Linked DNA regions of Homo sapiens. The protein of the gene in region 1 interacts with the protein of each later gene in a biochemical or structural test. Each region holds a gene or a part of one and is shown in the gene's direction. Other genes may lie near its edges.

What was found. Proteins that work in one complex are often made in the same cells at the same time.
Region 2: of the proteins of NOTCH1 (region 1) and PRKCD, one has a biochemical effect on the other in vitro, tested with the Homo sapiens proteins (one study listed by BioGRID).

The regions. Positions count from the first base shown.
Region 1 is NC_000009.12:136,494,049-136,497,548, reverse strand, and holds the end of NOTCH1 (neurogenic locus notch homolog protein 1 preproprotein), read left to right. Parts: coding exon 1-1,478; 3' UTR 1,479-3,116; downstream 3,117-3,500. UniProt on the Homo sapiens protein: Functions as a receptor for membrane-bound ligands Jagged-1 (JAG1), Jagged-2 (JAG2) and Delta-1 (DLL1) to regulate cell-fate determination.
Region 2 is NC_000003.12:53,178,209-53,181,708, forward strand, and holds part of PRKCD (protein kinase C delta type), read left to right. Parts: intron 1-195; coding exon of another isoform or gene 196-214; coding exon 215-329; intron 330-1,368; coding exon 1,369-1,568; intron 1,569-2,998; coding exon 2,999-3,059; intron 3,060-3,235; coding exon 3,236-3,398; intron 3,399-3,492; coding exon 3,493-3,500.

The DNA.
Region 1 (3,500 bases):
CCCTGTTTCTGGCCGCCCGGGAGGGCAGCTACGAGACCGCCAAGGTGCTGCTGGACCACTTTGCCAACCGGGACATCACGGATCATATGGACCGCCTGCCGCGCGACATCGCACAGGAGCGCATGCATCACGACATCGTGAGGCTGCTGGACGAGTACAACCTGGTGCGCAGCCCGCAGCTGCACGGAGCCCCGCTGGGGGGCACGCCCACCCTGTCGCCCCCGCTCTGCTCGCCCAACGGCTACCTGGGCAGCCTCAAGCCCGGCGTGCAGGGCAAGAAGGTCCGCAAGCCCAGCAGCAAAGGCCTGGCCTGTGGAAGCAAGGAGGCCAAGGACCTCAAGGCACGGAGGAAGAAGTCCCAGGACGGCAAGGGCTGCCTGCTGGACAGCTCCGGCATGCTCTCGCCCGTGGACTCCCTGGAGTCACCCCATGGCTACCTGTCAGACGTGGCCTCGCCGCCACTGCTGCCCTCCCCGTTCCAGCAGTCTCCGTCCGTGCCCCTCAACCACCTGCCTGGGATGCCCGACACCCACCTGGGCATCGGGCACCTGAACGTGGCGGCCAAGCCCGAGATGGCGGCGCTGGGTGGGGGCGGCCGGCTGGCCTTTGAGACTGGCCCACCTCGTCTCTCCCACCTGCCTGTGGCCTCTGGCACCAGCACCGTCCTGGGCTCCAGCAGCGGAGGGGCCCTGAATTTCACTGTGGGCGGGTCCACCAGTTTGAATGGTCAATGCGAGTGGCTGTCCCGGCTGCAGAGCGGCATGGTGCCGAACCAATACAACCCTCTGCGGGGGAGTGTGGCACCAGGCCCCCTGAGCACACAGGCCCCCTCCCTGCAGCATGGCATGGTAGGCCCGCTGCACAGTAGCCTTGCTGCCAGCGCCCTGTCCCAGATGATGAGCTACCAGGGCCTGCCCAGCACCCGGCTGGCCACCCAGCCTCACCTGGTGCAGACCCAGCAGGTGCAGCCACAAAACTTACAGATGCAGCAGCAGAACCTGCAGCCAGCAAACATCCAGCAGCAGCAAAGCCTGCAGCCGCCACCACCACCACCACAGCCGCACCTTGGCGTGAGCTCAGCAGCCAGCGGCCACCTGGGCCGGAGCTTCCTGAGTGGAGAGCCGAGCCAGGCAGACGTGCAGCCACTGGGCCCCAGCAGCCTGGCGGTGCACACTATTCTGCCCCAGGAGAGCCCCGCCCTGCCCACGTCGCTGCCATCCTCGCTGGTCCCACCCGTGACCGCAGCCCAGTTCCTGACGCCCCCCTCGCAGCACAGCTACTCCTCGCCTGTGGACAACACCCCCAGCCACCAGCTACAGGTGCCTGAGCACCCCTTCCTCACCCCGTCCCCTGAGTCCCCTGACCAGTGGTCCAGCTCGTCCCCGCATTCCAACGTCTCCGACTGGTCCGAGGGCGTCTCCAGCCCTCCCACCAGCATGCAGTCCCAGATCGCCCGCATTCCGGAGGCCTTCAAGTAAACGGCGCGCCCCACGAGACCCCGGCTTCCTTTCCCAAGCCTTCGGGCGTCTGTGTGCGCTCTGTGGATGCCAGGGCCGACCAGAGGAGCCTTTTTAAAACACATGTTTTTATACAAAATAAGAACGAGGATTTTAATTTTTTTTAGTATTTATTTATGTACTTTTATTTTACACAGAAACACTGCCTTTTTATTTATATGTACTGTTTTATCTGGCCCCAGGTAGAAACTTTTATCTATTCTGAGAAAACAAGCAAGTTCTGAGAGCCAGGGTTTTCCTACGTAGGATGAAAAGATTCTTCTGTGTTTATAAAATATAAACAAAGATTCATGATTTATAAATGCCATTTATTTATTGATTCCTTTTTTCAAAATCCAAAAAGAAATGATGTTGGAGAAGGGAAGTTGAACGAGCATAGTCCAAAAAGCTCCTGGGGCGTCCAGGCCGCGCCCTTTCCCCGACGCCCACCCAACCCCAAGCCAGCCCGGCCGCTCCACCAGCATCACCTGCCTGTTAGGAGAAGCTGCATCCAGAGGCAAACGGAGGCAAAGCTGGCTCACCTTCCGCACGCGGATTAATTTGCATCTGAAATAGGAAACAAGTGAAAGCATATGGGTTAGATGTTGCCATGTGTTTTAGATGGTTTCTTGCAAGCATGCTTGTGAAAATGTGTTCTCGGAGTGTGTATGCCAAGAGTGCACCCATGGTACCAATCATGAATCTTTGTTTCAGGTTCAGTATTATGTAGTTGTTCGTTGGTTATACAAGTTCTTGGTCCCTCCAGAACCACCCCGGCCCCCTGCCCGTTCTTGAAATGTAGGCATCATGCATGTCAAACATGAGATGTGTGGACTGTGGCACTTGCCTGGGTCACACACGGAGGCATCCTACCCTTTTCTGGGGAAAGACACTGCCTGGGCTGACCCCGGTGGCGGCCCCAGCACCTCAGCCTGCACAGTGTCCCCCAGGTTCCGAAGAAGATGCTCCAGCAACACAGCCTGGGCCCCAGCTCGCGGGACCCGACCCCCCGTGGGCTCCCGTGTTTTGTAGGAGACTTGCCAGAGCCGGGCACATTGAGCTGTGCAACGCCGTGGGCTGCGTCCTTTGGTCCTGTCCCCGCAGCCCTGGCAGGGGGCATGCGGTCGGGCAGGGGCTGGAGGGAGGCGGGGGCTGCCCTTGGGCCACCCCTCCTAGTTTGGGAGGAGCAGATTTTTGCAATACCAAGTATAGCCTATGGCAGAAAAAATGTCTGTAAATATGTTTTTAAAGGTGGATTTTGTTTAAAAAATCTTAATGAATGAGTCTGTTGTGTGTCATGCCAGTGAGGGACGTCAGACTTGGCTCAGCTCGGGGAGCCTTAGCCGCCCATGCACTGGGGACGCTCCGCTGCCGTGCCGCCTGCACTCCTCAGGGCAGCCTCCCCCGGCTCTACGGGGGCCGCGTGGTGCCATCCCCAGGGGGCATGACCAGATGCGTCCCAAGATGTTGATTTTTACTGTGTTTTATAAAATAGAGTGTAGTTTACAGAAAAAGACTTTAAAAGTGATCTACATGAGGAACTGTAGATGATGTATTTTTTTCATCTTTTTTGTTAACTGATTTGCAATAAAAATGATACTGATGGTGATCTGGCTTCCACTCCCCTCTGCTCTGGCCTTTGGCTCCCTTTCTGGGAGGGAGGCAGGGCTGCTATGCTCTGAGGGAGCCAGGAGTCGAGGGCCCCTTCTGCTGGGAGAGTGACGGTGAGGCTGCCTAGTCCTGGCCCACGGGGGTGTGGGGACCACGCTGCCTCCAGGGACTCCATGGTGTCTGCAGCCTGCCTGGTCCAGGCCCTTTGTAGGGAGATGGACACACAGCAGCAAGGGGGTTGCAGCCCTATGGGAGGTGGGGCTCGTGCCTGGGGTGACACGGCTCCCAGGACACCATGCGTGAGTCTGGCCCTCCTGGCAGCTCGGGGCTCTTCTCCTCTCAGCCTCGGAGGGATGAAGGTCCCACCCAGCCATCCTGGGGACAGCCCCTCAG
Region 2 (3,500 bases), on another chromosome or scaffold:
ATTACAGGCGTCAGCCACTGCGCCTGGCAAACCTCTCAGTTTTTAACACTGGCAACTGAGACTAGTGTGTGTGTGCATCATGTGGGCCAAACCCAATCATAGCAGAGCCCTGGGGGAGCGGGTCCCTGAGTGCTGCCCGTGACTGTTCCCGCTGGTCCCGCCCGGCCGCCTGGCCTCACCCCTCTGTGTGCACAGCCCCACTGCAGGCCCCACCATGGCGCCGTTCCTGCGCATCGCCTTCAACTCCTATGAGCTGGGCTCCCTGCAGGCCGAGGACGAGGCGAACCAGCCCTTCTGTGCCGTGAAGATGAAGGAGGCGCTCAGCACAGGTAGGCCTGGAGGCTGGACCCTGGAGAGGGGCTGGGAATCTGGGCCCAGCTGGAAGGACTGGAGGGGGCCTGGCCTTGTTCCCTGCAACCTCTGAAGGATTCTGCTCTTCCTCATCCTTGACTCCCTGCCCCACTCAGCTATGAAGGCAGAGGCCACTGAGTCGCTATAGGGCTGCAAACACTGGCCAAATTGAGCCCTCCTTGGAAGGCTTGGAGTTTCTGGTTCCTCCTCCCTGGTTGTTTTACCCAGCAATTTTTACATGTCCATTTGTGCCAGGGCCTGTGCGGGGCACTGAGGATACTGTCATGCTCCAGGACTAACCTGGCCCTGCCCTCATGGGGTTCATAGTCAGGTGGGGAAACCAGGCACGTCAAAAAGCAGTGAGTCCTGCAATAGGGAAGCCCAGAGAAGGCACCCTCTGAACCTGAGGTCAGGGAGGACTTCCTGGAGGAAGCACATACCTCACATCATTCCCTCTTGCTTTTGCCCTGGCCTGGTGAACCCCTATTTGTCCCTCAGGTCTCGGCTGAACTGTTCCTTCCTCTAGGAAATCTTCCCTGACCCTTAGGCTTGACCCTGTAGCACTACCAGCCTTGCCCTCTTCAGTCTCATCACAACTGTGACTTAACAGTTACTTGAGGAAGGAGTTGGTGCATTCGCCACCCGGGCCTGGGGATCCAGGAGGACAGGCCCTGGATGTAGCTTTTCTTTCAGCTGTGTTCTGCGCCTCGAATATTATGGCTGGCATGCAGGAGCTGTCAGCCCATGTTCCCTGCATGAATGCATAAGGGCAGGCGACATTTAAATGGAGCTGGAGCAAGAGGATCAGAGGAAGAGGGAACAGCAGGAACAAAGGCCTGGAGGGAGGACCTAGCAGGGTGCCCAAGGTAGTTCTGTGCTCTAGAGGACACTGGGGAACCACAGCAGGCCCTCAAGGCAGGAGAGTCGGGCAGATTCTGCCAGGGGAAGGCCGTGGAGGTCTACGAGGGAGGGACAGAGGGGCCATGGCCCAACCTTCTCTGCCTGGCCTTGTTGCAGAGCGTGGGAAAACACTGGTGCAGAAGAAGCCGACCATGTATCCTGAGTGGAAGTCGACGTTCGATGCCCACATCTATGAGGGGCGCGTCATCCAGATTGTGCTAATGCGGGCAGCAGAGGAGCCAGTGTCTGAGGTGACCGTGGGTGTGTCGGTGCTGGCCGAGCGCTGCAAGAAGAACAATGGCAAGGCTGAGTTCTGGGTAAGGGGCGCACGAGCCGTGCCGTGTGTGTGTGTGTGTGTGTCTGTGTGTGTGTGCATGCGTGCATGTGTGTGCGTGCACACACGCGGGCTTGGTCAGTGAGCACAGCTGAAGAGCACCGGGCCCTGTGCTGGCCACCAGTCCAGCCCTGTGGCCAACATGTCCTGGGTGTGAATCCTGGCTCTGCAATTCACCAGATTCCCAGCCTCTCTGAGCTTCTGCTTCCGCATCTGTTAAGGGAAGGCGCTACTAAATGTGCCTACCTCAGGGTCAGTTGTTCAAATGAAAGGAGCAGCTGGATGTACAGGGCTTATTGCAGAACCTGACACATAGCAGGTGCTAAAGACGGCCAACTTCCTTATTGTGACTACTTTTTCCTTTTTAATTTTGGAAAGGCAGGATATGCACATAGTAAAACATTTTTAACTGCATGAAAGGGTGTGTCCCTGCCCCAACACCAGGCCACCAGGCCTCCTTCCCAGAGGCACCCATTATCCCAGTTCTTTTTGGAATCTTCGCATATATTCTAGGCCTTGGCAGCCATTGAGGGGGCAACATAGTGATCTTTAACAGCAAGGAGGTGGGAGAAGGGGAGGCTGACGGTCTCATCTACTTACCTGCTGAAATGGAGACTCTGCACAAGCATGTGGCCACTTGGCCATGTGCAGCTGTGTGTTCTGGGTGGCCACAGGATGCCAGTGCTGGCAGAAGTCCCCTGGGGTTACATGTGGGATGTAACCAAGATGTCTCCACCAGGAAAGGCCCTGTGACCATTGGAGGCTCTGATCAGCCTCCTGCGAGGGGTGAGGGGGCTGGGATGGGAGAGAGGTTAACACAGGGCTGTACTGACCCTTGGCCAGTCAGGCAGGGACACAGAGGGGCCTCTGGCTGTGCTGTCTCCGCTCCCCCAAGGGAGGATATCAGTCACCAGGTCTAGGTCTTGGGGGAGGTGAGGGGATAGAGGCTCAGGTCCCACCCTCGAGACTGTCCAATCTGCATGAGGAGCCCTCGGCACAGAGGGAGGAGCAGCGTGTGTGCACGAGGATGAGTGTGTCTGTGTGTCTGTCTCTCTCCGCATGTGCACACGGGTAGGGGCCTCCATTCTAAGATCCTTGCTAAGGGAGCTGCAGCGGGTAGGGGTGGGGAATTTCCCTTCCCGCTCTATTCCCCAGCTATGTGTCTGGGCTGGGTGTGGGCTGGACCCTTTCACTTCCCTAAATGTAATAATACCCCTGGGTACAGGGTGGGGGTGGGGCTCAGGAGTGGGGCTCAGGCGGGGCCCTGCCCACACTGGGCAGACAAGTGTCTGGCTAGGCCTTGGGGGGCTGCCTTGGCCTTGGGGGACCAGCCATGGGGGTGGGTTCTGAGTTTGGCCTGGCCCAGGCTGCCCTCACTGACCTTGTTCTCCCCTGGCCTCTGGCCCCCAACAGCTGGACCTGCAGCCTCAGGCCAAGGTGTTGATGTCTGTTCAGTATTTCCTGGAGGACGTGGGTAAGAACTCCCTGGGGGTGGAGGGCTCCCTTGCCGGGTTCAGAGGCAGAGCCAGCACTGAGGTGTAGGGAAGCTGCTCCCTTCGGCAGAGCTGTCCAGGACCACCCTGGGAGGGACTGTAGGGGTGCCACCCCTTCCAGATACCAGGGCTGACTTCCCTACTCCATGGTCACCAGATTGCAAACAGTCTATGCGCAGTGAGGACGAGGCCAAGTTCCCAACGATGAACCGCCGCGGAGCCATCAAACAGGCCAAAATCCACTACATCAAGAACCATGAGTTTATCGCCACCTTCTTTGGGCAACCCACCTTCTGTTCTGTGTGCAAAGACTTTGTCTGGTGAGAACCGGCCATGCCCACTGGTGGTGGTGCAGGGTAGTGGGGGCCGATCCCGGTCCCCGCTCACTCACTTTGCCTGGGTTTTGCCTTTCAGGGGCCTCA